Linked DNA regions of Homo sapiens. The protein of the gene in region 5 interacts with the protein of the main gene of each other region in a pairwise test. Each region holds a gene or a part of one and is shown on either strand. Other genes may lie near its edges. The genes, in order: BEND3, HMMR, KRT25, SSX2IP, MORN4, CRTAC1 and SEPTIN6.

What was found.
Region 1: the proteins of MORN4 (region 5) and BEND3 interact in binary tests that used the Homo sapiens proteins (3 or more experiments, as listed by UniProt).
Region 2: the proteins of MORN4 (region 5) and HMMR interact in binary tests that used the Homo sapiens proteins (3 or more experiments, as listed by UniProt).
Region 3: the proteins of MORN4 (region 5) and KRT25 interact in binary tests that used the Homo sapiens proteins (3 or more experiments, as listed by UniProt).
Region 4: the proteins of MORN4 (region 5) and SSX2IP interact in binary tests that used the Homo sapiens proteins (3 or more experiments, as listed by UniProt).
Region 6: the proteins of MORN4 (region 5) and CRTAC1 interact in binary tests that used the Homo sapiens proteins (3 or more experiments, as listed by UniProt).
Region 7: the proteins of MORN4 (region 5) and SEPTIN6 interact in binary tests that used the Homo sapiens proteins (3 or more experiments, as listed by UniProt).

The regions. Positions count from the first base shown.
Region 1 is NC_000006.12:107,098,293-107,102,607, reverse strand, and holds part of BEND3 (BEN domain-containing protein 3), read left to right. Parts: intron 1-3,311; 5' UTR 3,312-3,322; coding exon 3,323-3,359; intron 3,360-3,854; coding exon 3,855-4,057; intron 4,058-4,315. UniProt on the Homo sapiens protein: Transcriptional repressor which associates with the NoRC (nucleolar remodeling complex) complex and plays a key role in repressing rDNA transcription.
Region 2 is NC_000005.10:163,473,662-163,477,976, forward strand, and holds part of HMMR (hyaluronan mediated motility receptor), read left to right. Parts: intron 1-395; coding exon 396-544; intron 545-1,796; coding exon 1,797-2,011; intron 2,012-4,315. UniProt on the Homo sapiens protein: Receptor for hyaluronic acid (HA). Involved in cell motility. When hyaluronan binds to HMMR, the phosphorylation of a number of proteins, including PTK2/FAK1 occurs.
Region 3 is NC_000017.11:40,747,199-40,750,419, forward strand, and holds the end of KRT25 (keratin, type I cytoskeletal 25), read right to left. Parts: coding exon 3,182-3,221; intron 2,128-3,181; coding exon 2,060-2,127; intron 1,189-2,059; coding exon 1,079-1,188; 3' UTR 823-1,078; downstream 1-822. UniProt on the Homo sapiens protein: Essential for the proper assembly of type I and type II keratin protein complexes and formation of keratin intermediate filaments in the inner root sheath (irs). Plays a role in the cytoskeleton organization.
Region 4 is NC_000001.11:84,655,597-84,659,911, reverse strand, and holds part of SSX2IP (afadin- and alpha-actinin-binding protein), read left to right. Parts: intron 1-1,443; coding exon 1,444-1,594; intron 1,595-3,427; coding exon 3,428-3,564; intron 3,565-3,906; coding exon 3,907-4,080; intron 4,081-4,315. UniProt on the Homo sapiens protein: Belongs to an adhesion system, which plays a role in the organization of homotypic, interneuronal and heterotypic cell-cell adherens junctions (AJs).
Region 5 is NC_000010.11:97,626,703-97,631,017, reverse strand, and holds part of MORN4 (MORN repeat-containing protein 4), read left to right. Parts: intron 1-4,315. UniProt on the Homo sapiens protein: Plays a role in promoting axonal degeneration following neuronal injury by toxic insult or trauma.
Region 6 is NC_000010.11:97,901,208-97,905,522, reverse strand, and holds part of CRTAC1 (cartilage acidic protein 1 isoform A precursor), read left to right. Parts: intron 1-708; coding exon 709-854; intron 855-3,883; coding exon 3,884-4,020; intron 4,021-4,315.
Region 7 is NC_000023.11:119,686,355-119,690,669, reverse strand, and holds part of SEPTIN6 (septin-6), read left to right. Parts: intron 1-4,315. UniProt on the Homo sapiens protein: Filament-forming cytoskeletal GTPase. Required for normal organization of the actin cytoskeleton. Involved in cytokinesis. May play a role in HCV RNA replication.

The DNA.
Region 1 (4,315 bases), on a different chromosome or scaffold from region 5:
AGCATCTGTCACTAGTCTATAAATGGACACGGAAGTGTTTTCCAAAGCACAAGCACTCGGTGTCTTGAATGCCCAGGCAGCCGCACCAGCACCCCTTCCTCCCACCTCAGCTGCATGAGCCCTCTGGGGTTTCTGCCCACTGCAGGTGGCTGAGATGTGTGCTCTTCCTTCATCACTTTATAGGGGCTCAAAATTCAGAGGCCAAATTGCCTGCTGTAGGGTCACATGGTGGTGGTTCAGAAAATAGCCTCCTTCCAACCCCACTGGAAACAAGGAAAAATAAAAAATCAGAAAATAGGTTTTCTGCTCACCAAGCCACATTCCCGGCAGGCTCCATGTGGCAGCCTGGACTCCAGCCCTGCACTGCTCCCTATGTGATGGGCCTGCCAGAGACACATGGTTGGGCGAATATAATGGCAGATAAATAGACTGCCCTTCTCACCACCCATGGCCCTGTCTGCTGTGTTCTCTCATCGACGCCTGTTTTGTTTTGTTCTAGTATTTGCCCATCCTTTTAGTGCTTTCCACTTACCAGAATCTTTGACTCTTTGCAATTTTTCTTTCACCATGACCCTTTTCCTCCCCAAATAAACCAACCGCTGTCTCCTCCCTCTCTGCCTTTTCTCTGCCAAATGTAATTTGTTTTGTAAAGTATGTCCGCCTCTGACAGCCATCGTTTTGCCCCATCTGTTCTGCATCTCAGAACTCCCCTTGATTGGCAGGAATGGGTTATGTGACCATGGCAGTTTCCAAGGGCAGGGGCATTCAGGTGACCTGCAGTGTGTTTCCTTGAGAGGCCTCCTACCAGGCTGGGAATCCGGTCTTGAATTTCTGCCTGGCATTGTCCAGCCCTTCTAGCCACTCAGAGACACCCAGCTCAGATGATGGCGATCCAAAGTGAGGTGTAGTTCCTTGAAATACAGTGGAAGGAGTTGCTAAAATTTGACTCTGGTAAAATAGTTCTCGGACCCTTGAAGTTGACTTATTATTTGTTTTCTGTCAATATCACCCTGTGTGTAATGTTTTTTCAGGTAGGAGATGGCTTGGTGAGTAGGAATTATTTTCAGTTTCAAATCTCATTTTGGTTTTCATTCCTCTGAAAATTAGCAATACAGGGATGAAAAGAATTGTGCCTGTCTTGCACTATTGTGCACTGTTCTTGAACTAAAAATAGTGCTTCACATCATAAGCACTGTATGTGTTGCCATTATTAGTAACCTTTGCAGTGATGATTGTGCTCATGGATCACCCAGACACACTCTCCCTCTTGCTGCCATCCCCACCCCATTCACCTGTCTAAAACAGGTACTGTATGTCAAACACACACCATTCTGTGGCTACTCCTTGAATGGTTCACTGAACATTTTAGATGGCTTCATGCTTACAGAGTTTCTTTCTTTTTTTTTGAGACAGAGTCTCACTCTGTCACCCAGGCTGGGGTATAGTGGTGTGATCTTGGCTCACTGCAACCTCTGCCTCCCGGGTTCAAGCAGTTCTCCTGCCTCAGTCTCCCAAGTAGCTGGGACTATAGGCGTGTGCCACCATGCCCAGCTAATTTTTGTATTTTTAGTACAGATGGGGTTTCACCATGTTGGCCAGGCTGGTGTTGAACTTCTGACCCCAGGTGATTCGCCCACCCCAGCCTCCCAAAGTGCTGGGATTACAGGCACGAGCCACCATTCCCGGCCAGAAATTTCTTAAGAGATACTTCTTGGTCCTGCTCTCCACTCATCCTCAACCAAAATGAGAACTCTGTGTTTGTAGTCAGCTTAATCAGTTGTGGGGATCACAACTCCCAAGTGTCAACATTAAAGATTGCAATGTATATTCTCCAAATGTTACTACCTTTGTATCTTGTACTATTTATGTACATGCTGTCATGGTATTCGGAGATATCAGAGACTTAGTGGTAATTTTGTTTGTTTTGTTTTAGTGGTGCTTTGCCTCATGGTGTCAGTTCCATTCCAGCTGAGGCAGGCAGGTTTTGCTTCAGACCCTGCAGCCTGGAACAGAGCACTGCCCACCTTTCTAATGAAGCTTAGGCTGGGCACAATGGCTCACACCTCTAATCCCAGCACTTTGGGAGGCTGAGGTGGGCGGATCATGAGGTCAGGAGATCGAGACCATCCTGGCTAACACGATGAAACCCTGTCTCTACTAAAAATACAAAAAATTAGCCGGGAGTGGTGGCTTATGCCTGTAGTCCCAGCTACTCGGGAGGCAGAGGCAGGAGAATCACTTGGAGGCAGAGGCAGGAGAATCACTTGAACCCAGGAGGCGGAGGTTGCAGTGAGCCAAGATTGCGCCACTGCACTCCAGCCTGGTGACAAAGCAAGATTCCGTTTCATAAACAAATAAATGAAATAAAGTATTGTATTTAGCCCAGTAAGTCCAAAATATTATCATTTCAACATGTAATCAATATAAAGCAATTATTAGGACTGGGCACTGTGGCTCAGATGTGTAATCCCAGCACTTTGGGAGGCCAAGGTGGAAGGATCGCTTGAGGAGTTCAAGAGCAGCCTGGTCAACATAGTGAAACCGCATCTCTACAAAAAAATTTTTTAATTAGCTGTGGGTGGCGGCATGTGGTACCTGTAGTCCTAGCCATTCTAGAGGCTGAGGCAGGAGGATTGCTAGAGCCCAGGAATCAGAGGCTGCAATGAGCCATGATAGTGCTACTGTACTCCAGCCAGGGTGAAAAGAGTGAGACCTTTCCTCTAAAAAAAAAAAAATTACTAGTGAGATATTTTGCATTTCTGTTACTAAGTCTGAGATTTGGTGTGTATTTTACACTTATAGCACATCTCCATTGGACTAGCCACATTTTGAGTCCTTGGTAGCCAGGTGTGGCTAGTAGCCACCTTCAGGTCATGGGCAGCACAGTTCTCTTGACAACCGTAAGTCCTAAGATTTCAGGATCCATGGCCCCCATCCTTCAGCCTATTTGTTTTGTGGCTGGAATTTATAAGCATGGACTTAAAAGAGATAATTAAAATTGGGGTCTTTTTTAAGAGTTGATTTGTTCTTGTAATGTTCCCATGGCTCAGTAAGTGGCTATCAGTGGATGCTGTAAGACACATTCTGCTCACATAAAGTCTTGGAGAAGAGCTCCCAGCAGGGATGCACAAGGCCTGGCTGCTCCTGAGTGTCTGCAGACAAGATTAGGAGGACACATAGCTTCCACAGTGCTGTGCTGCTCTGTTACCTAGAGCTGGGGTTGGGAGGGTAAGAGGATTTTCTGTGGGTAGAGAAAATTAAGAAATAAATCAAGCAATAAGTCAACACATTGTCTTTGTCTTTTTATTTAGCGGAATAGAAGATGAACTCAACTGAATTCACCGAAGATGTAGAAGAAGGTAAAAAAAAAATGCCCTTTTTGAAAAATGTTTTTAACTGAATACTTTTGATCAGGTCATACATTCACATGGTCCAAAAATATACAAAGTTATATAGTGAAAAGTCCCCTCCACCCACACACTTGTTCCCCGGTTCCCATCCCCCTCCACCCACACACTTGTTATAAGCACCTTGTGTCACTTTTTAAAAATTACTTTTTTAAAGCACAAAAAGATAATATTTTATGTCTCTCCTTCCACTGTCTTCCCCCCCAAAAAAAGATGTTTAAACCAATTTGAACTAAATGCTCTTGGAACATGGCTTTATTGTACAGCACTAGTGCGGTGAGATAAAGATTGCATCGTTGGAAAGCTCAGGTTTGTTACAACTAGACATCATTATCTCAGCACTGGTGTCAAAGGGCGGCCCACAGACACCCTGCTGCTCAGAGAACCCTGCTGATCTCTGAGCAGCCCTGGTTTTTCCCACTGAGCCCTATTTCTTCTCTGACACAGTTCTAAAAAGTATCACTGTGAAAGTGGAGACAGAGGCTGAAGATGCTGCTCTGGACTGCTCCGTGAATTCCAGGACTTCTGAGAAGCACTCTGTGGACAGCGTCCTCACTGCCCTGCAGGACTCCAGCAAACGAAAGCAGCTGGTCAGCGATGGCCTGCTAGACTCTGTCCCCGGCGTGAAGAGGAGGCGGCTGATCCCCGAGGTGAGGGCCTAGCTGCTGTCACTCTTTGCTTGGGCTCTAACCCTCTCTGATTCCATGCTGAATCTCCCTCTTGTTTTGGGCATCCTGGCAACTGCTGAACCCTTGGGCATGGGAAGGTTTCATTTAAGCTATCCCATCTCTGGCTTCAGTTTCTCGAAAGTGTCTGTCTTTAACTGGAATTCTTGTTTGTGTTGGGATTCCTGGTGGGTAAAGGGAGCCTTCACATTGCAGCTGCTTTTGCGTTATTTTGCTGTGCTT
Region 2 (4,315 bases), on a different chromosome or scaffold from region 5:
CTAACATTTTAAATATAATTAGCTATATAGCTATACAACAGCAAAAACCTGTACTGCATTTTAGAATATTTTACTCTTATAATGTTTGTTTTCTGTTTATTTCAATACAGCATATTACCTGTCTTGATTGAAATATATACAGTCATATAATTCTTGACTTTTCCACTAGGTGGCTGTGTAACAATCAGTAGATAACACAGAACAAGATTTGTGGGTTTTATTATTTAGCACATAGTATATATTACATGGAGTAATGATACAAAGTTCACAGTTTTGTTTTCTTCTTTGGAAATACCATGCTAAAAGCAGTGTAATGGAATATTATGGGAGTCCAGGTTTCTCAGTCTTAATGTTCTTATCTAATTCCAGTATTCTTGATGTTTTGCGTTTTCTAGAAGACCATGTCAACAGGAATAGAGAACACAACGAAAATCTAAATGCAGAGATGCAAAACTTAAAACAGAAGTTTATTCTTGAACAACAGGAACGTGAAAAGCTTCAACAAAAAGAATTACAAATTGATTCACTTCTGCAACAAGAGAAAGTAATTTACCACCATATTTTTTTAAACTGTTCATTTTGTGTCATACATTTCCCTATGTCTCTGAACACCTTTAAATTGTGTATATCCTTTGATCTACCAATTCTATCTTTAGAGTCTTATCCTGAGGACATAATCATGGATATGCTGAGGATTTAGCTACGTATTTTCACTACATGTTCACCCTAGGGTTATGAATAATGTGGGAAAATGACAACAGATACAGCAAAATAGGGAATTTTTAAAAAATTTTCTGGCTCATTCTTGTGTTATTTAGGCTATATAAACATTTACACTTACCTTGTAAAAGACTGTCTAATTACAGAAGAAACAAAGCAATTTTTAAAATCCAGATTATTTATAGAACATTTTACATATCAGTGAGAAGAAAGAAAGTCCACTGAAAAATTATGGGCATAGGATGGAAACAGAGAAGGAGAAGTTCTGGCCTGTAAATATAGAAAGATACTCCACCTTAGTAGTAACCAAGGAAGTAGAAATAATATTTTTTTCACTTACAAAATTGGCACAAATTAAAACATTTGATAACACAAAATACTGGTGAGAGTTAAGCCAACAGGTACTTACATGCACTGATGTGAAATATTATAGTGTTGGACAACCTACAACAGCTAAAGGAATTGAGTAGATCTATATACACTGACCTGGAAAGATTTCAGCAACAGAGTATATATCATTTATATCCCTCCCCAAATGTATATGTATATATAAGTGTAAAGAAAAATACCAGAAGGCATATATATTCCAAACTAGTAGCTATCTCTGCAATGGGAAAACTAAAATTAGGGGGGGAAGTCGTCAAAGATAATATTAACATCATTTGTAATGTTAGAATTATTTCACAATGGTGATGTATTTGTATATTGTATAGCTTAAAAAATAATTTTATGTAATATGGAAATCACCACACACTTTTTACATAATATGTGAAAAATAATGTTAATATCAAAGCCAGTTGTAAAACAGATATATATATATAAAATATAATTTTAGATTAAGAAGTTTCTGCATGTGCGTTGCATAGAAAAAAGCCTAAGATGATATTTGCCACAATGTTAACAAGGTATAGGAAATAATCTATGAAAACAAATATGCTATTTCTATATTGTTTTAAGTTTCCTTGAATCTGTTGAATTTAGGTTTCATCCTTCTTTATCTGTACTTTTTTTTGTCTCCTAGTACAACCTCACAATGCCATTCCAAATTATTTTGGTGGTTTTCTGTTTGGATATAGGAATTATCTTCGAGTCTTCATCAGAAGCTCTGTTCTTTTCAAGAGGAAATGGTTAAAGAGAAGAATCTGTTTGAGGAAGAATTAAAGCAAACACTGGATGAGCTTGATAAATTACAGCAAAAGGAGGAACAAGCTGAAAGGCTGGTCAAGCAATTGGAAGAGGAAGCAAAATCTAGAGCTGAAGAATTAAAACTCCTAGAAGAAAAGCTGAAAGGGTTTGTATTAATAGGATCTCATGTTTATGTATGACTTCAGATGTATTTATTTTGAGTACTTTTTTTAGTATTCTCTTATCAATCATGTGAGCGTGTTAGGTTGGAATTATTTTATAATTAAGTAGTAATTATTAATTATTTTACAATTAAGTAGTAGACACAGAATGTGAACACAAAATGTACATGCAAACAAGTAAGACAGCCCCCTCTTTTAAGTTAAAAGTTAAAGGTTTTGCCCCCTTTTTTTAAGGCCAAAGAGAGTTTAAATAAACAAATGACAAAAGTTTTACACTTCTTTACTACTCTGCTAATTTCTGAAATTTATTGAACATCAGCATTAGAACAATAATCAACTCAGGGCTGGATGTGGTGGCTGATGCCTGCAATTCCCATACTTTGGGATGCCAAGGTGAGAGGACTGCTTGAGCTCAGGAGTTTGAGACCAGCCTGTGCAATATAGTGAGACCTCGTCTCTACTAAAAATTAAAAAAAAAACTAGCTGGGCACGGTGGTGTGTGCCTGTAGTCCCAGCTACTTAGAAAGTTGTGGGAGGAGAATCACTTAAGCCCACGAGATTAAGGCTGCAGTTAGCCGTGATCACGTCACTGCACTCTAGCCTGAGCAACAGAGTGAGACTCTGTCTCAAAAACAAACAAAACACAATAATGAACTTGGGGGAAAAAAATAAAGAATCCCTCCCATTAATAAATAGCATTCCCATTTTTGTCTATGCACTTACATAGTGTAAGTTATACCTTTAATTACATTTTTCCGGGAGCACAAACACTTCAGAAATAGCAATCAAAATGCAAAGCAGGCTGGCACAATGGCACATGCCTAAAGTCCCAGCTACTCAGGAGGCTGAGATGGGAGGATCTTTAGAGCCCAGGAGTTTGAGGCTGTAATGCTCAACGATTATACCTGTTAATAGCCATGGCACTCTAGCCTGGGCAACGTAGCACAAGATGCCACCTCAATCAATAACTGATAAAAAGCAAATGAGAAAAAATAATTATAACTGGGAAACATTCAGAAGTAAGAAATCTCTTATTTACAGTAGAAAGACTGAAATCTTGGCTGGGTGCGGTGGCTCACACCTGTAATCCCACCACTTTGGGAAGCCAAGGCAGCGAGATCACAAGGTCAGGAGTTCGAGACCAGCCTGGCCAACATGGTGAAACCCCATCTCTACTAAAAATACATAGTAAATTAGCCTGGCATCGTGGCGCACGCCTGTAATCCCAGCTATTCAGGAGGCTGAGGCAGGAGAATTGCTTGAACCCAGGAGGCGGAGGTTGTGGTGAGCTGACATCGCACCACTGCACTCCAGCCTGGGCGACAGAGGGAGACTGTGTCCCAAAAACAAAAGAAAAACTGAAATCTCACTTTTTTCCCGAACTCTAGTTCCTTATAATTTCTGCCACATTATGTTTCCTTCTCCCATACACTTATTTATTTCATTTTGTTTTGTTTTGTCCATAGTAATTGCTAATTTTTTATTTATTAAGAGAAACTATTCCTTAGCCTACATATTCATATTTCATAGTTCAGGAACACAGGTTAGTGACAAACACTACTACATTTATTTAAATTAAAAAGTCTGATTTGATTCTTGAGTTCAAATTGCAAATATTTAAATCCTTGGGATCTGATCATTAAAACACTTGTTGTCAAAGGACTGTGGGCTAGATATGAGTTTGTATTATTGTAATATATCTCACACCTGTGTATCTGTCTCAGTGGATACTTTTGTTATTAATCTTTTCTGTTTTCTTATGATTAGTGATGCAAATGAACAGCAAGGTTTTTCATATCCCTGCTTTTGGGGGAACAATACAAAATTGTAATTAGGGGTGTTGTTCTATACTACAGCCAATCTCAGGGAACAGGAATCTTGGGAAAATAAGATAATGTCATTTTAAGAGAGGAAAGAAAATTGAGATAATTTTTTATTCCAACTCAAAAAACTGTGGTCCAATGGTCAAGAGATAAGGATTTTTATTACTAATTCTGTTAGCTAGCTGGTTGATTCTGAGCAAAACAATCTTAGTTTCTTTGATCTTCTACTTCATTAGATATAAAAGAGTTTTATTAGATGGTCTCTAAGATCCCTTCTAGCCTGGAAATTTCAAGCTTAAGAGAAAAACAAACTAAGAATTGAAAATAATTCCTCTAGGGGACAGGGAAGAAAATATTTTTATTATAAACTCTTTAGTCATATTTGATTGCTCTTGCTGTGGTGTGTATATTTTTGAAATCCGGCACTTGTTACAGAATGAATTTGATCAGCTATTTTTCTTATCT
Region 3 (3,221 bases), on a different chromosome or scaffold from region 5:
AGGCCTGTGGCTAAGATTGTATCAGAAGCAGGCAATAAAAACAATTCAGGGATAATTACAACACACTTAAAAGACTCTTTTTCTGCTTTATATTTTCACTTAGAGGCAGAAACCATTTTTTTTGAATAGATTATAATATGGATAATCCATCCATACAGGATAGAGGGTCAACTAAATATCTAGAGGTAATATCTGATCTGAGGAAATTATGTTTTTAATTAATCTAATTTATTTCCCTTTAGTAGAGAGAAATCTATTGGTCAAGAGAGTTATAAACATCAGCTACAACTTTGTAGTAGAAGTGGATGGCTCTATTCCTGTAACTTGGATTCTAAACTAAAACTTTTGCTATAACCTCTATTACATTTGGAATATTGTTTAAAATATATATCCAAAAGGAAAATGAGGTTGAGAATTAATCATTATAAATATTGAGTATTAAAAATAAGTATTAGCATCTGTTGAATGCTTATCCCATAAGTGCACTTTGCATTAAGTTATTTCTTTAATCTTTACAATAACCATTTGAAAGAACTACTTTTATTATCCCCATTTACAGATGAAGAACCTGAAATGTATATACTTTAGTTATTACTAAAGGGAATAGGCTTCTTAGTATGTCAAAATATGGCAGATTGGGGATTTAAATAAAAGTACTTTTATTCTTTCTGAATTTGTTTCAGTTTGAATTATAGGGTAAGCCTTATGAAAACCTATGAGGAAATCTATTATTTTGAAAGAGTTTTTATATAATAAAAGCTGTTAGATGTTCACATATTTATATTGCACACATAAACATTCTAAAGACAGTATCACCAATGATAACTTGCTAAAGAAGAGGTTTATTGAATACAAAGAATTGACAACAGATTTCTGTAGGATAATCAAATGAGTCATATTTGTGTGTGGCATTCTTCTAGATGAATGGGGAGATGCTGTCATTGATTGCCCAGAAAGAAAGTAACAGAAAGACAACAGGTTAGACATTTTTCTTAGACATGCACATTTTTCTGGACAGATACATAATGCCTTTTCTTCGCAGGGGCTATGTGGCATACGTTCTCTGTTGCATCTCAAATTAATTGCTTTGAGATTTCTCTTCCAGGGAGTGGAGCCTGGTGGTAAGTATTTTGCTGCGTTGGTCTACCTCCTCAAGAACTTTCTTAACCACTATGGCTTTGGCTGGGTCTGAGCATTAAAAATTAAAAGGAGATTTTATGTAGTTAAAAAAAGAATAAAAATTATATCATTTAAAGGAATAATAGGATTTGCATACAGAATGAACTTTGCACTAAGCACAAATACTTAGACTCATTTTTGGTGAATAATTTTGATTATTTGGTTAGAAAAAACATGGTGACATGTTATTTTGTTTAAAATTAGCACAAATCACTAATATTAGACATCTAGCACATATGGATATCTACTACAAATCTTTATTGTATGTATTCTTACCAAGCCATGGTAATATAAGAACAATCAAGCTATGCATTAAAAATGAAGTAGTTGGGTATATATACCCAGAGGAATAGAAAACATTCTACCATAAAGACACATGCATGTGAATGTTCATTGCAGCATTATTCACAATAGCAAGAACAAGAAATCAACCTAAATGCCCATCAGTGACAGACTGGATAAAGCCATAAACACCATGGAATATTATGCAGCCATGAAAAAGAACAAGATCATGTCTTTTACAGGAACATGGATGGAGCTGGAGGCTATCATCCTTAGCAAGCTAACGCAGGAACAGAAAACCAAACACCACATGTTCTCACTTATAAGTGGGAGATAAATGATAAGGACTTATGAACACAAAGAAGGAAACAACAGATACTGGGTTCTACTTGAGGGGGAAGGGTGGGAGGAGGAAGAAGAGCAGAGAAGATAACTATTGGGTACCGGGCTTAATTCCTGGATGATCAAATAATATGCACAACAAACCTCCGTGACACGTGTTTACCTATGTAACAAACCTTCCAATGTACCCCCAAACCTAAATTAAAAGTTAAAAAATAAAAAATTAGCATTGCACAACAGATTTCATTTTAATTACCTTTGACTTGACTTCCCACATTTCCAGATCCATAATCTTTAGACTTGTAACCCCCAGACTTACAGGCTCTGTGAAAACATCGCAAAAGAGGGTGATTTAGAGAGAACCCCATCAATTCTAGGATCACCATATGGTTTTCTTTAGCTCTTTGGTAGTTTCAACTGTGTAACCCAGTATTTGATTTATAGTGTTTGCTGATTTCTGTAGAGGTATGAATACCTTCTCCATTGCTGATATCAAGTCACCAAGTGACATCACTAAGTGAGGGGTTAGGAAGAGAAGAGATAGGCAGAAGAGGCTGTCATGAGATGGTAACAGCAGTTCTAGCATGCCACTGGGTGTATTTATACAACTTAGGTTGAAATTCACCCTTTTAAGTTTTGCAGGTTTATGAATTGTGACAAATTTATATAGCTGTGTAAGGATTTACATTTGGAAGCATCACTCTAGTCAATGAGGGAGGGTTTGATGATAGGTGGGGAAGAGTGGTGTAGATCGCTTCAGCAGTTAGGCAATTACAAGATACTTTTCCTAAGTGGGGTTTTCTCTGAGACTGTAATGTTTTTGTTCTGCTTCAGCATTAAGAAGTGATTTTTTTTTCTGTATGATTCCTTTTATATTAACATCAAGAATGGATAAAATAATAACTGCCAAGGGAAGTGGGGCACAGAAGAACTTTCTGGGGTGATGAAAATGATCTTCATTGTGAATTCAGGAAGCTTCCTGCTCCTAACAACCCTGAGCTCTAGACATCCAGACTTGTGGCCATGGGACTTTATCAGTGCTATGAAGACAGGATTCTGTGAGTGCTGAGCTCCAGAAACCATTTCCAGAGTCAGAATCCTGGTCCACATATTGAAACTCCATTTAGCCTCCCGTTTGTTCTTTTCACTCTAGAAGTGATATTTTCAATGTTCATATCTTGAACTCGGTGCCTGCTGCATATTGGTTTAAGATATTAATTTGTATTTTGGCAGTTGAGTATGTATTATATTTAATATTTAGTATTCATGATAATAAATGCATGCAGCCAAATTATGTCCGCTTTCCAGTGGAAAGTGGGATCTAAGTTGCAAGCAGATTTCAGTATATTACGCCATCTATGCAGATTATTTTACCTACCCATCATCTCCTCCTATAAGGAGACAGTAGGTCTCAATTT
Region 4 (4,315 bases), on a different chromosome or scaffold from region 5:
GACATGAGCCACTGTGCCCAGCCGAATTTTTTATTTTCATTTTGTGGTTAGAGAGTTCTGTTCAATCTGAGAAATGTGCAATAATTATTCATTTTTCTTTCTTTTTTTTTTTTTTGAGATGGAGTCTCACTCTGTCGCCAGGCTAGAGTGCTGTGGTGACATCTCAGCTCACTGCAACCTCTGCCTCCCGGGTTCAAGTGATTCTCCTGCCTCAGCCTCCTGAGTAGCTGGAAGTACAGGCATGCACCACCACGCCCAACTAATTTTTGTATTTTTAGTAGAGACAGGGTTTCACCATGTTGGACAGGATGGTTTCGATCTCTTGACCTCATGATCCACCCACCTCTGCCTCCCAAAGTGCTGGGATTACATACAGGCATGAGCCACCGCGCCCGGCCAATAATTTTTCTAACAGATTGGTAGTATTCTAATAGGCTTTAAAATGTTCAGAAGAGAAGCTGTGCTTCCTTGGAAGAGTTACTGGCAAGTAGCTTTTGAGTATTGGCAGGGGCTAGAATCACCATGAGCCGGATCCTGGGCCATTCCCCTGTCTGCTCCGCCTCAGAGACCCTGACCTCTGCTAGCCCATTGCTGACCTCAACTACTGATAGAGTTCTTCAGACTCAGTTGCTCCCTCATCCTGCTGATCTCCATGTGCGAGCAGTCGAATCAGCCCTTCTTTCTTTTCATCTTTTATCTTTCTTTTTTCCCCAGCAAGATTTTTATTGTTCAAATTAGTGAAGTATATCTCTCTGCCTTCCTGAATATTAATGACAAATTAGAACTACTTTATGTAGATGTGGGTTATTATGACATATATCCCTTTTAGTATTGTTTCCCCATGTTCTTTATCCTGCTTTGATTCTGTGTGATCATATATCAGTAAAGTTTGCTACTTCTTTATGATTTCATGTTTGGCAGAATACAAAGAAAAGTATCTCCCGTTATATAAAAAAGTATATGAGGAAAATAGAATTAACAGTTGCTTTTATTAAATACTTCAGAGATTATTTCACAAGTGCATTTCTTTAAGCAGCCTAGGATTAGAAACAAGTTGATCTAATGTCAAATATCAGTTCTGCCTCTTAGTTGTAATGCTGCTTCTCTAAACCTCGGTTTTCCCACATTGTAATGAGCTGAGGGTTAAATAACGTGAAAACATCCAACACATTAGACAGGTAGTGATATCTCCTTCTCAGACAGCTTCATGACTCTTGTCATTAACTGTATTTGGATTCAAATTCAGGTTTAGAGAGAGCTGAATTTAGGAGTCTCATTTTTTTTCTCAAGACATTTAAATACTGGGCCATATATGCATAAGACACAGCACAGAAATGATTTTGATGTGGCTTCCTCTGGTAATCAAACTGAAGACTACTTGCCTGAGCATCTAAAGCCATTGTAAGGTACTAGCCTTTCCTCTTCATCTCTCTCCGCTTGTAGGTTATTTCCGATGTTGAAGAAGATGCCGGGGAACTAAGCAGAGAGAGTATGTGGGACCTTTCCTGTGAAACTGTGAGAGAGCAGCTTACAAACAGCATCAGAAAACAGTGGAGAATTTTGAAAAGTCATGTAGAAAAGCTTGATAACCAAGGTAACCACTGCTTCTATGCATGTAAAGTGAGTTGTGACATTTGGTAAGGTGTTGATTTTTAGTCACTTAGAAAGCCGCATTATAGGCTCAGAGCTAAAGTACTATACTTCAGTTTGGTGGTTTGAAAGCAAGATTTTGCATACATTTATTTTTTCATTTTATTTTATTTTATTTTACTTTTTGAGACAGAACCTTGCTCGGTCACCCAGGCTAGAGTGTAGTGGTGCCATCTCGGCTCACTGTAACCTCCGCCTCCCAGGTTCAAGTTATTTCTCCTGCCTCAGCCTGCTGAGCAGCTAGGACTATAGGCGCACATCATAGCCAGCTAATTTTTTGGTGTGTTTTTAGTAGAGATGGGGTTTTGCTGTGTTGGCCAGGCTTATCTTGAACTCCTGGCCTCAAGTGATTCACCTGCCTTGGCCTCCCCAGAGTGTCTGGATTACACGTGTGAGCCACTGTGCACAGCCGACATTTTACATACATTTAGATGTGAGGTTTGAACCTCACTGAGAAAAATACACTTTGGTCTCAGAGTGAATGTTTGAAAAGAGGACATCATGGATCCATCTGCTCTGGATGCAGTATACAATCAAATAAAGATAACTGAGTTGGGATAAAAGACTACACATTGGGTGTAGTGTACACTGCTTGGGTGATGGGTGCACCAAAATCTCAGAAATCACCACTAAAGATCTTATTCATGTAACCAAACACCACCTGTTCCCCCCCAAAAAGAGAAAACTGAGTCTCTTTTACTGACTCTCAAAAATCAAGAAATATTTATCGTAGTATAGATAGGAACATTTTGCTTATTTCTAGATGCTTGCAGATTACTATGTTCCTAGTAATTCACTTAAAATTATTTTTAAAATAATAGATGTTTAATGCAAAATATTAATTTGGAAGTATATAAAGTAGAATATCCTGGTCTCTATTCCATACATATAACACTTAACAGTTTGGTGCATATTTTTCTATACTTTCCTCTATGGATTTGAAAGATACTTACTTTTTTTTAAATTTTAAAAATTGAATATTACCTATATTTTTCTTTAGTGTGCTTTTTTCACTTAACTATTATCCTTATACATAGCTCTACATTGATGAATATATTCTTAATATTTTCTGCTTGGTAAAGTTTGAATGCTTTTAAACTAGGAAAATGAAGATTTCTGCTCAGTAAATGAAGCCTATTTAAAGAAAAATTTAAATTGTCAAAATATGAACTCAGTGCCATTGTGTTAAGTATTAGTAAAGAGCAATCAGCAAAATTATTATTACAGCACCAAAATGAATCTACATGAGATTTTGTTCATTTGAGTCAATGCTGTTTATTATCAAATAGCAAGTATGTTTGGACTTCGTATTTGTTGAATTTAATATTTGAGAGCAAGATTTGTGACACTTCATTGATCTTTGAAGCAGTGTCAACAAAAACATGATTTTATTTTTCTCTTCTCTGAATATGGCCATTTTGTCTGTTTTTAATTAGGACATAATCATGAATAAATATGGATTACAAATTGTTGGCAATAGAGCTCTGTTTGTAAGCATATCATTTAGTCTTAAAATTGCACAAATGTGTAATTGTCGTCATGAACTCCTGTAGTTGCTTTGCTTAAACATTTTTTATAATGTTAAAATAATATAAATTTAATTTTGTTATAGCTTATGAAATTTTAAAAAGTCAAAGGACGTAACTACTTTTTAGAAAACCTATAAAATTCTAGAAAGATAAAAGTTCTGAGAGCCCTTGTTTTAAAGATATGTGCAAAACACTGTAAACTAAGTGGTGGCTATAAGACCTATGTCAACTTACTGATTTTGTCTTAGTTTCAAAGGTACACCTGGAAGGTTTTAATGATGAAGATGTAATCTCACGACAAGACCATGAACAAGAAACTGAAAAACTCGAGTTAGAAATTCAGCAGTGTAAAGAAATGATTAAAACTCAGCAACAGCTTTTACAGGTGAATATGAATTACCTTTTAAAGCTGTTCTCCATGAAAAGCCAGAATTGTGCTGAACCTTACCAGATTTGTATTCCTTTATTTCATAAGGCCCTGGTATTTGACAGATTTCTAGTCTGTGTTCCCTGCTAACAGATACATTGTGTACCACTCCTTAAATAGTCCATACTTTGCTAGTTGGGGTAGTAGGTTTCGGGAAATGAGAATTCTCATTTGACTTTTTGATTCTTAATAATTTCTATTCCTGCCCTGAAGTTTGACTGGCCTTCCCTTGCTTTCATTTCAACTCGTTGGAGTGTCGCAAGGTCCCTCAGGAACTTACTATGTTTTAAATTTTAATAGCAGCAGCTCGCTACTGCATATGATGATGATACCACTTCACTATTACGAGACTGTTATTTGTTGGAAGAAAAGGAACGTCTCAAAGAAGAATGGTCCCTTTTTAAAGAGCAGAAAAAGAATTTTGAGAGGGAGAGACGAAGCTTTACAGAAGCCGCTATTCGCCTGGGATTGGAGGTATTTTAAACAATTGTAGTGCTTTTGAAAATACTGGGGGTGGGTGGGCCTCAGTAGAATGCTTCTAAGGTCTCCTTTTTTTCTTGCTATTTACTTATTTTCTAAAATATTTACTGGTGATCTCACAAATAATTTGAAATGAGAGGGAGGCTGAGCATATAGAATGGGATCATTTCCCCTTACCAGATTTGAGAATTGAACTTAAGAAAAAAAAACGCTATAAGCATTTATTACT
Region 5 (4,315 bases):
TTAGCTGGGTGTCGTGGCATGCTCCTGTAGTCCCAGCTACTCAGGAGGCTAAGGTGGGAGGATGGCTTGGGCCCAGGAGGCAGAGGTTGCAGTGGCTGAGATGACGCCACTGCACTCCAGCTTGGATGACAGAGCCAGACTGCCTCAAAAAAAAAAAAGTATTGGGCTTTCAGTCTTCATCGGCACTGACTATACTTTGTTAAACTAGGTTTGTCTCAATGACCATGGTTACTGGTGAAATTCCTTTTTAGGTCAGTAGCTGTAAAGCTATTCATTAGCATGGTTAATTATAAAAGTCATAAAATCCAGACACTGTCCCAAATAGTGACAATATCAACTATTTGGGCACATGTGACAGTTTCTAGCCAAATGTATTCAACCATGGCCTGAGACTCATGGATTCTACACACATTCCCTTTCATTAGCACTTCTGACTGTGGTCTTGGCAATGGACATCATTTTGGCAAGCATTTGCTGAAGGGAATTTGCTATATGTGCCTAAGTCAAAATGGAATGGAAGTTTGTAGTATGTACTGTTGAAAACCAATGGGAGAGGATGGTGGGAGGGTTAGGTTGAAACATGGTATTCCAGTTATTATTGCTGTATAACAAAGTACCCCAGAATTTAGCAGCTTAAAACACCCATACTGTGGCCAGGCGCGGTGGCTCATGCCTGTAATCCCAGCACTTTGGGAGGTTGAGGAGGGCGGATCATGAGATCAGGAGATCAAGACCATCCTGGCTAACACAGTGAAACCTCATCTCTACTAAAAATACAAAAAATTAGCCGGGGCCGGGCACAGTGGCTCATGCCTGTAATCCCAGCACTTCGGGAGGCTGAGGCAGGCGGATCACAAGGTCAGGAGATCGAGACCATCCTGGCTAACATGGTGAAACCCCGTCTCCACTAAAAATACAAAAAAAAATTAGCTGGGCATGGTGGCGGGCGCCTGTAGTCCCAGCTACTGGGGAGGCTGAGGCAGGAGAATGGCGAGAACCTGGGAGGCAGAGCTTGCAGTAAGCTGAGATCGTGCCACTGAACTCCAGCCTGGGAGACAGCAAGACTCCGTCTCAAAAAAAAAAAAAAAAAAATTAGCTGGGCGTGGTGGCGAGCACCTGTAGTCCCAGCTACTCAGGAAGCTAAGGCAGGAGAATTGCTTGAACCCGGGAGGCGGAGCTTGCAGTGAGCCGAGATCACACCACTGTACTCCACCCAGCGTGACAAAGCGAGACTCTGTCTCAAAAAACAAAACAAACAAACAAAAAAAAAACACCCATATGATGCTCATGGATTCTGTGGGTGAGGGAATTTGGACCTGGCACCATGGGGAGGCCTCTCTCTGCTCCCTGATATGGGATGGAATGCAGGCTCAATGGCTGAGGGCTGGAATCATCTGAAGGCTCCTTCACTGATGCCTGGTACGTGGGATAGGATGATTCAAAGGTAAGGGCAGCCAACTGGAACACCAATATATGGCTTTTCTGTGTGGCTTGGCTTTCAGTGTTAGCCTCTGTGTAGTCAGGCTTTTTATGTGGTGGCTCGGGTCTCCAAGTGTGAGTGTATCAGTGACAAGATGGAAGTTGCATCACCTTTTATGATCTAACCTCAGAACACACCACCATTTTCTTTTGAGACAGAGTTTCACTCTTGTTGCCCAGGCTGGAGTGCAATGGCGCGATCTTGGCTCACTTCAACCTCCGCCTCCTGGGTTAAGCAATTCTCCTGCCTCAGCCTCCCAAGTAGCTGGGATTACAGGCATGGGCCACCACACCCAGCTAATTTTGTATTTTTAGTAGAGATGGGGTTTCTCCATGTTGGTCAGGCTGGTCTTGAACTTCCGACCTCAGGTGATCCGTCCGCCTCGGCCTCCCAAAATGCTAGGATTACAGGCATGAGCCACCACGCCCGGCCCACACCATCATTTTCATTGTGTTCTTTTGGTCCAAGCAGTCACAAGCCTACTCAGATTCAAGGGAGGGGAGGTAGATTTCACCTTTTAATGGATCAATGGCCAGATCAAATTGTAGACAAACATGTAAGACAGAAGATACTGTTGCAAACATCTTGGAAATACAGTCCGCCACATTTGGTAATAAGAAGGTAACCTTTTCAGTTTCATTGGCTTCCTTAAAATATTTAGGGTATAATCCCCAAGAGCTAACAGCATACTAAAAAAGTGGTTAGGGGCTGGGCGTGGTGGCTCATGCCTATAATCCCAGCACTTTGGGAGTCCAAGGCAGGCAGATCACATGAGGCCAGAAGTTTGAGACCAGCCTGGCCAACATAGTGAAACCCCATCTCTACTAAAAATATGAAAATTAGCTGGCCGTGCTGGCACGCCTGTAATCCCAGCTACTCAGGAGGCTGAGGCACGAGAATCTCTTGAGCCTGGGAGGCGGAGGTTGCAGTGAGCCAAGATCATGCCATTAGACTTCAGCCTGTGTGACACAGTGAGACTGTGTCTCAAAAAAAAAAAAAGAAAGAAAAAAAGTGGTTAGGTGTACCACTTGAAAACTAGTACTTTGTCCGTAAATAACCCTCAAACTGGAGAAATGTTCCCTTCTTTCAGCAATCTTATACTGTTCCTTCTGGAACAAGGTAGAATGCCACTCTTTGGAAGTTTCACGTAGCCTTGAGAAAAAGTAAATAAATACAAGGCAGTACTTTCCCTGAGTCCCTGTGTAGTCAATATGACTCCTCAAATCCCACTGCAATAACTCCTTCCAAATTTTGAGTGAAAACAAGTTGGTTAACTGCTGCCAGACATCTAAAGGAAATGCTCTTATAATCTTTTTGTATAAATAGTGATTTTGTGTTTAGGTTTTGGAATGGTTGTTTAATTATAAGATTTAGTGGAAGATACAGCCCTTCAGATTCTAACTGATGTGTTTTGAAGGAATGAAACTTCAACCATAAGCTGACTTTTAGTGCTGTAACTTAGTTCTGGGAAGAGCTGAGGATTGCCTGATCAAAATGCCCGTCTGTACTGGAAAGCGTTTTCTTCTGCTATTCTGATGGAAAACTACTTCTCATGCTCTCATTAATGTTATATTTGCAATGGAGTCATGTTGGCCTCTACCCCAGCACACTCTGATGCTGGGCTGGTGATAAGAGGCTTGTGAGCCTGAAATTGGATGCTGACCTTGTGGGACATTGATAGGACAGAGATGACATGGCAAGTACCAGCATCACGTCTCAGAAAATAGCTCCCAGAGGTTTGGAGGGAGTTTACTACAAGAAGATAATGGTCCTTGCCTCGGATATCTTCTGTGTGAGAGATACTGGAAATGGAATGCTTGACTGATAACTGAAGAAGGGAGAAAGTCCTATGGGAGTGGCCCCCAAATATCTCTAGAAGAGTCTCCACAAGGTTGCCCTTCATTTAGGCGAGAAATGAATCTTTTCTCTTATTTGGGTGAGAGCACAGGGATTCTTATAACTCGTCTGTCCTCATGGCTGGGACAGAGCCAGGGCGTAGAAGATGTCATTGAACCCTGCTCTGGTCAGGCCTAGCTGTTTTCACATTAGACCATTTCTGGGCTTTTGGTGTCTGTATCAAAAATCATTATGTTCTGGCTGGGCGCGGTAGCTCACGCCTGTAATCTAGCACTTTGGGAGGCCGAGGTGGGCAGATCACATGAGGCCAGGAGTTCAAGACCAGCCTGGCCAACATGGTGAAACCCTGTCTCTGCTAAAAATACAAAAAGTAGCTAGGCGTGGTGGCACACACCTGTAATGCCAGCTACTCAGGAGGCTGAAGCACGAGAATTGCTTGAACCCAGGAGACGAAGGTTGCAGTGAGCTGAGATCGAGCCACTGCACTTCCACCTGGGTGACAGAGTGAGAGTGTCTCAAAAAACAAAAAACAAAAAAAAAAAGGTGTTCAGGTCCCTCTGCTGAAGCTACTCAGCAAAGTCACCAGCACCAGTCTCCATTAAACAAACAAACAAACAAAAATCAGGCCGGGCACAGTGACTCATGCCTGTAATCCCAGCACTTTGGGAGGCCAAGGCGGGAGGATCACCTGAGGTCAGGAGTTCAAGACCAGCCTGGCCAACATGGTAAAACCCTGTCTCTACTGAAAATACAAAATTAGCTGGGCGTGGTGGCAGGGGCCTGTAATCCCAGCTACTTGGGAGGCTGGGGCAAGAGAATCGCTTGAACCTGGGAGGCAGAGGTTACAGTGAGCTGAGACTGCACCATTGCACTCCAGCCTGGGCCACAGGAATGAAACTCTGTCTAAAAAAAAAAAAAAAAAAAAATCTGGGCACAGTGGCTCATGCCTGTAATCCCAGCACTTTGGAAGGCTGAGAT
Region 6 (4,315 bases), 270 kb from region 5:
TTGGAGGAGAAGACTAAGAGGCTGTCAGGGAGATTGACAGGGTGGGCAAGATGAGCTGTCTCAGATGCGTGGTCAGGGAGGGCTTCCCGGAGGAAGTGACATTGTGGCTGAGAGCAGAATAACCAGGAGCTGGGTAACCTAGAGCTAGAGGGAGAGCATCCCAGGTAGAGACCTGCTTGAGCAAAGGCCCAGGAGCTGGAAAGATGGGGAGAGTGGGACCAGATCAAGACCAGATAAGGCGGACAGGACCATGGTCAGGCAGAACCCTGTGCTCCCCAGGCAGGAATTAGAACTTTCCCTAAAAGGATTGGAGGGCATGATCAGCTTAAGCAAAAGAGTGGCATGATCAGCTTAATGTCTTCCAGTGGCAGTGTTAGGGGTGGCCGGGAAGAGCCTTTGGTCCTCCAGAATTTCCCCCAGTCTCCCTCCCCCAACCCATGCCACCCCCCAAACAGGGTAAAAATAATATGCATGCTGGGCAAACACAGCTTGAACACAAGTCTTGGGTCTTCTTTTCAAGCACATGACTGTCCCACTTCCTGCCCCTATAGAGAGCTTCTGAGACTGCAGCTATGTCTCCCGTATCTCCTCCCGGGAACAAGATGAGAGTCACCCTCCCTAGTTGCTTGTCACAGAGCTAGAGCAGGGTGAGTGTTTGTGGAGTGTGCAGGGGATGCCGCCCTGAGAGTTCCTGCCTCTCCTCCCCAGGTGTGGACGACCCCCACCAGCATGGGCGAGGTGTCGCCCTGGCTGACTTCAACCGTGATGGCAAAGTGGACATCGTCTATGGCAACTGGAATGGCCCCCACCGCCTCTATCTGCAAATGAGCACCCATGGGAAGGTCCGCTTCCGGGTAAGAAGGGGCCTCACCCCAGGAGTTCAAGACCAGCCTGTCCAACATGGCAAAACCCTGTCTCTACTAAAAATACCAAAAATTGGCCAGGTGTGGTGGTGCGTGCCTATAATCCCAGCTACTCCGGTAGCTGAGGCACAGGAATCTTGAGCCCAGGAGGCAGAGGTTACAGTGAGCTGAGATCGTGCTACTGCACTCCAGCCTGAGTGACAGAGCGAGACTCCATCTCAAATAAAAAAATAAATAAATAAAATAAAATAAAAAGAAAGGGCCTCTCCCTCACTCCTCCCTACAGCACCACTGCAGGGGTGCCCCGGCATGCCATGGAGCTGCCTCGCTCCTCCCACCAGGCTGAGCAGGGCTCAAGGCTCTCAGGGCCCAGAGTGGGGGTGGGGTGACAAGGAAGGTTACACCAGGGGACGAGGGACTACAGCTGGGCTGCTGTAGGAGCTCTGGATCCAAGAGTAGGAAGAACCAGGTCAGCAGAGGTGGGAGAGCAGCCTCCGAGGTGGGCCGGAGTCCTGGGAGGTGGACTGCACTCTCTGGATCCAGGCCATTTTTTCTGGTGGCTCCTGGAAAGGATCCAGCAGCTAGAGCAGAGAGTGTTTGTGGAGTGTGCAGGGGATACAGGATGGCATCCCCTGCACACTCCACAAAAGCCAGGCCTCAGCTTTTTAGACCTTTTCAGACTGACGTTCAAACCAAGGGCAAAGTGGTGGAGAGAATGGAAGATTGAAGCCACGGAGTTCCCAACAGCTGCCCCTAAAGACAAACAGCAGATGGCAGGCAAGGTGGCCTCAGAGCCCTCTCTGTGCCCCCTCCCTGAGCTGTTGATAGACCGATGCCAAGAATTCTTCAAAAGGGCTGTTAGTGACAGTGATGGAGGTGCCAACAGCATGAGGGGCATGGGTTTGGAACTTTCTCAGGGAGGGCAACAGAGGGCATGGGCTGGTTGAAGCTGATCTCAGGGATCCAGGACTGTTCTGCAGATACCTAGGTCTGCCAAAAACCCCTGAGGAAATGGGAAAGTTCCAGGGTTTTCCTGAGGCTTGAGGATCCCAGGGAAGTCCCCAGGGACCTCATGTCTGTGTAACCAAGAAGAGGCCACCCCTACCAAGTCCCTTCCCTGTAAGCAGCCACCTTGGGACGCCCAGGCCCAGCCACTCCCTCCCTGCTAAGGCTTGAGACTCAGGCTCCCTGGGCTGGGAAGAGGCATGCCCTGAGCCCAGGACAGCTCGTCCTGGGATCTTGGACGATTTCCACCTTTATTCTACTCTTGTTCTCACCCAGCTTCTCAACAGGGATGATCTTGCTGCCCTCCCTCTGGGACATTCAACAATGTCTGGGGACATTTGGGTTTGTCACAGCTGGGGAAGGGAGGGCTCCTGGCATCTAGTATGCAGAGCCCAGGGATAGGGCTGAACACCCTACAGTGCACAAAGCAGCCCCACAACAAAGGATTATCCAGTCCCAAACGCCAACGCACTGAGGGTGAGGAACCCTGTTAATTCTTCCGAAGGCCCCTCCCCAGAGCTCTCAGGAGCAATAATAATACTAATAATACATAAATGCCCTATTTATCAAGTGCCTTCCATGTGTCACGAACTGTGCTAAGCTTAACATACATTATCTCGGAAGCTCAGGCATCGAATAGGGCAACCCCAAGGGGGCTATGGGAGGTTTCCATTTTTATAGGATCAATAGAATCATAACGGCTAGAGATCCTGAGGTCTTTTTGCTCCCTGGCTCTTAAGGCCCAGCTCAACCCACCCAGACCAGCTGGCCAGGCTTATTCAACCTCATTACTCCTCTGATGGAGACAGCCTCTTTCCCTGGCCTCCCCAGAGCAGGCAGCTCGACCGCTGACCCAGCCTGCTCATCCCTGTGGCTGCCAAAGAGGGTCTGCAGCAGGAGGCCGAGAGCAGGCCCAAGTCGGGTAGAGGATGCTCCCAGAGACACCACCTGTACCTTTCTCAGCCCTCTCCACGTGGGCCCTGGGACTTAGACATGTCCCCAAGGTCTTTAGGGGAAAAACCCACCTATGATGAGGATATTACGCTCAGAAATAGAAGATTGCCCTTCCCAGCTCTCCTTCTATTTCAGAGGCAGAAACACACCTGGGACCCTTTGCCTGGTCCCCCAAGGCCCTCCCAGTACTTTGGAGTCCCAGCTGGGCTATCCTGGGCCTGGGGTCTCCCCATTAGTCCTGGACAGGTGTAGCTGATACCGCAACCCCCTCAAAGCAAATGTCTCAAAAAATAAAAATAAAAAGACTCCCAAGAAACAACGTAAGGTAGTAGAGGCAGCCAAATCCACAGCTACAGGTAACCTCTTTCACCTTCCCTGAGGCAGGTGGTGGGTAAGGCAGGACAGGCTGCCAGCGAGCTATGTCATGCCCACTCTGTGCCAGGCATTTTACATGCAATCCTCACAACCCAGGCAGCTATTACTATTCCCACATTACTGATGGGGAAGGTGAGATCCAAGGGGGTTAGTAACTTGCCTAAGATCACACAGCTAGTCAGTGGTGGAGCCTGGATTTAGATGCACAGAGATTTCCGGTGCCCACCCAGCTTCTGACTCAGCACAGAGGAGGAAGGGTGCCTAGGAGAAAGGGCACAGAGTCCGGAATCAGAAGCCCTGGCCTCCCCACTCAGTAGCTGTGACATCGCAGTTCCCCTCCTTCTCCAGGACTCAGTTACCTCACCCGTCAAATGGGAAGGCTAATGTCTGTACTGCCTCAAGGGATGGACAGAAGGGATGGACAGGTGTGATCCAGACTAGGGATCGGCTAAGCACTTCACTGGTGTCTAGCACGACTGTTATTCTTCCCTCCTTCTTCTCGTACAAGCAGCCTGAGGTCTGTGTGGTCCTAAAGGCAGCCCCCAGGTCCTTTGCGGGAGGCAGGAGAGGAGCTTTTGGGTTGGACTGTCTCTTATTTTTAATTGCCCCCACACTCCATAGAGGAGAGCTGGCCTCCCGCCCCAGCCCACTCTCCTGCCACTGACCCCCAGCCTTGTTTCCTCCAGGACATCGCCTCACCCAAGTTCTCCATGCCCTCCCCTGTCCGCACGGTCATCACCGCCGACTTTGACAATGACCAGGAGCTGGAGATCTTCTTCAACAACATTGCCTACCGCAGCTCCTCAGCCAACCGCCTCTTCCGGTAGATGCTCCATCCTGGCTCGTGGCTCTTCATCCTTGACAGCTGGTGGGAGGAACGGTCAGGGAGAAGGTTTAAGAATCAGAAGGGGAGGGTTCCCAGGGCCAGGGGGTCAGGCCAAGGTCAACACAGGTCCCCTGATGAAGAAACAGAAAGGAAGGAAGGACGAGGACTGGGCAAGAGGCTGTGGGAATGCAGGGCAAAGCCTGGCCAAGGAGCCGGCCTCTGCTATTGCAGGGAAAGGGAAGGGAAATGTGGCCCAAAGTGTGCCCAGAACCCAAGCGCCACAAGATACAAA
Region 7 (4,315 bases), on a different chromosome or scaffold from region 5:
CTCACTGCAACCTCAGCCTCCCAGGTTCAAGCGATTCTCCTGCCTCAGCCTCCCGAGTAGCTGGGATTACAGGCACCCGCCACCACACCTGGCTAGTTTTGATATTTTTAGTAGAGGGGGGTTTTCACCATGTTGGCCAGGCTGGTCTCGAACTCCTGACCTTGTGATCCACCCGCCTCAGCCTCCCAAAGTGTTGGGATTACAGGCATGAGCCACTGCTCCCGGCCAGGAATTCTTTTTAATGAGCTCTGAGACGTGGTACCATGCGAGTAAGTGCCCTAGTGTGTGTGTGTGTGTGTGTGTGTGTGTGTGTGTGTGTGTATGTGTATGTATGTGGGGGGTGTGTTCTTTCTAGAATCAGTTGAGAGTCACTGTGGGTAAACATCCTTAGTGACTAAAACAAGCCTTCAAGTTGTTGGGTAGGGCTTACATTGCACGCAGCCAACTTGGAAGTTCAATTCTGGTGCACATAATACAAGTCCGTCCCATTTGAATGAACACCACAAACGGTTTGGTGTGACAACACCATTTCTCCACTGTGTCCATATTTACTTGATTGACTGATATGTGGCCAGCACTATGGTTAGCCCTTGTCAACTGGACAAAAAAAGGTAGCAGGCTTTAAAAAACGTTCGTGATCGGACTGGGCTTGGTGGCTCATGCCTGTAATCCCAGCACTTTGGGAGGCTGAGGTGGGCAGATCATGAGGTCAGGAGTTCGAGACCAGCCTGGCCAACATGGTGAAACCCCGTATCTACTAAAAATACAAAAATTAGCCAGGCGTGGTGGTGCGTGCCTGTAATCACAGCTACTCAGGAGGCTGAGGCAGAAGAATCGCTTGAACCCTGGAGGCAGAGGTTGCAGTGAGCCAAGATTGCACCACTGCACTCCAGCCTGGGCAACAGAGCGAGACTCCATCTCAAAAAAGAAAAAAAAGAGGCCGAGGTGGGTGGATCACAAAGTCAGGAGATCGAGACCAGCCTGGCTAACATGGTTAAATCTCATCTCTACTAAAAATACAAAAAATTAGCCAGGCGTGGTGGCGGGCACCTGTAGTCCCAGCTACTGTGGAGGCTGAGGGTGTGAACCTGGGAGGCGGCACTTGCAGTGAGCCGAGATCGTGCCACTACACTCCAGCCTGGGCGACAGAGTGGGAATCCGTCTCAAAAAACAAAACAAAAAAAAGTTCGTGGCTTTTAAGCTTATAGTCTAGTTGGAATGACAAATTGTGGACACTGTGAAATAATTAAAGAACTATAGAAGATCCTTGTGATGCCCCACCTCACCCCCTGACTATGAGGTGGCTTGGGCTGCTATTAATATATATTTCGAGAGGTTCCATGACTTGTCCAAGGTAACCAAGGCACAGGGCAAGCCCCAAAAGCTGCATGTGCTGGCTCTTTTAATGAGCTGTTCCTTTCAATGTTGCATTCTGGGATCCAGACCGTAAATGCCGGCCCATACCAAGAGCATCTGGATGATTCTGGCTTGAACTAGTCCCACAATGTGAACAATGAAGCTTTCTCTAGTGGCAATCTAGGTAGTGGTCATTCTCCCAAGTGAACTTTCAGGGGCTAACTTTGCCCTACAAAGTTAGCTGGGGTTGGTCTGGGTCAACTGTCTCAGAGCAACTGTCTTCAGGTGGGGAAAAGATTGCTGCTGCACTCTGGTTTTGCTATCATCACGTGGCAGTTACCCTTTGATTCCCTTTGAGGTCTCTGCTTCAGGCGTTCCTACCACCACCCACTAAAGGTAGTATCGTACCTCAAACATAGAAAACAAAACCCTATTACCTAGCTCTATTGGTGATACAACACGGAAGAAAGTTTACATGGCCCTAAATATTTAAAAATGTTGATTCTAAATTTGAGGGGTTTTTGGACAGTCATTACATTATTTTCTAACTTCTCTGTGTGTTTGGGATGTTTCTTTTCTTCTTTTCCTTTTTTTTTTTTTTTTCCCCGAGATGGAGTCTTGTTCTGTCGCCCAGGCTGGAATGCAGTGGCGCGATCTCAGCTCACTGCAACCTCCGCCTCCTGGGTTCAAGAAATTATCCTGCCTCAGCCTCCCGAGTAGCTGGGATTACAGGTGTGCACCACCGTGCCCAGCTAATTTTTGTATTTTTAGTAGAAACAGGGTTTCACCATGTTGGCCAGGCTGGTCTCGAACTCCTGACCTCGTGATCTGCCCACCTTGGCCTCTCAAAGTCCTGGGATTACAGGTGTGAGCCACAGCGCCCGGCCTGGGATTTTTCAAAATAAAAAGCGGGCAGAATGACAATGTCCCCCAAATGCACATGGTCCCTTCTTTCAAGGAACTGGTGGAGGCAGACACAAATCACTATCTAATTATCTTTGTGATAAGTGCTACACAGGAGAGTGACTGCCTGCCATGAGATTTCATTACTAAGGGAACCTAACTCAGCAATGAATGGAGGCAGAGGGTGACAGGAAGGGCTTCCTGAGGGCTTCAAATAGGAAATGGGTAGGTGTGAAGGTGGGTGAGATCTCACATCTGCTACTGGGTTGGGAACATTTCATTTGCCAATTCACCCACTTTTATTTTCATTCATTCCTTCAGCACATATTCACTGGGCACTGATCGGCCAGGCCCCGTGCCAGGTGCTGAGGATATAGTGGTGGCCAAGGCACGCAGGAACTCTGCCCTCTCACAGCTTCCAGATGAAAGGCAGGAATAAGCCCTGTTTCCTTTTTACATCCTAAATCCTGGAAATGTGAGTGTTAGCGGTGTTCTTAATACAAAACTACATTATAGCAGAGTGATTTGTCTGTATCATCTAATGAGATTTTGATCTGCAGTCATGTGCATAGCATTTACTTTGTGGAGTCTCTGCTGTAAATTTTCTATTAATTGCTGGCTTTGTTACCAAGCATGGCCACTGCCTTTGTGTGCTATAAGGGAGCAAACCTATTGCATTAGCCTGAGCAAAGCCAATTAGGAAGATAAGTCCTCTGGAAAAAGGTATTCCCAAACTAAGTAGGGCTGATTTCTGGACTTGCCTGGGTTTTTGGATGATCAGAGCCATGGTTTAATATTAGCATGAACAATTGAGAAGGGCTTTTAGTTGCATGTACATTAAAACTACATTCAAGACAGATGAGGCCAGGTGCGGTGGCTCACGTCTGTAATCCCAGCACTTTGGGAGGCCGAGGCGGGCAGATCATGAGGTTAGGAGATCCAGACCATTCTGGCTAACACGGTGAAACCCCATCTCTACTAAAAATTAAAAAATTAGCCGGGCGTGGTGGCGGGTGCCTGTAGTCCCAGCTACTCTGGAGGCTGAAACAGGAGAATGGCGTGAACCCGGGAGGCGGAGCTTGCAGTGAGCCGAGATTGTGCCACTGCACTCCATCCTGGGCGACAGAGTGAGACTCCGTCTCAAAAAAGAAAAAAAAAAAAAGACAGATGAAAGAAAGAAAGAAGGAAAGAAGGAAAAAGAAGGAAAGAAGGAAAGCCATGGATATATATAACATGTTTCTTTCAACGATCTCGAAATGCTTCCATCTGTATGATTTCATTTTCCCCAATGGCTTCCTGGACAAGTATTACTGTTCCCTTTATTTAATGGGTGTAGGGAGACCAAGTTACTTAGTCCGAAGTGCTATTGCTGGTCAGTGGGTGATACGATTAAACACCCACCAGATGACACAGATTCCTTGTTTAAAAACACTTGTCTTTTCATGATGTTTCTAAGACATCAAAATCCTGCCATGACCTCTCTTCCCCCTCTTTTCACTACACTCCCTCAGCACTCCCATAGGGCCCAGGGAAGAGTATACTAGGGTGATTCGGAGACTCTCTGATATTAAAAAGATTCTCAGCTTAAATCCAATATAGCACAGTCACGGGTTGTGTGGGTTTTCTTTTTTATTTTTTCTTCTCCATATTGCTTTAAATAAAAATCTTGGAGCCACCAGCCATGTAATGATGGATTATTTTAAGTAACAACTGGAGTGGGGGGCGCAGAATAAATTAGAAACACAGACCCTTCCTCCTCAGTTTGGCAGGAGGAGGCTTCTGCTGCTGGGATTTGAAACCGTGGGTTTCTCTGCCGCCTGCACAGAGGAAGGAGGCCACATGCTCAGGAGGGTGAGAAATAATGTTATCCTCTTCTTCAGTGTCTTCTCATTAGAGGCAGCCATCTGCTGAATTATGCAGCGCGCTCTCAGCCGGCCCTTCCACTCACTTAAAGGTGACCAGGGAAAAGATCTGCAGGCCTTCTCAGCGAGAGGCCTCAGGGCTCAGGTTTCCCCTGCCATGGCCCTCTCTGACCCGGAATGAAGGCCCTGGGGTA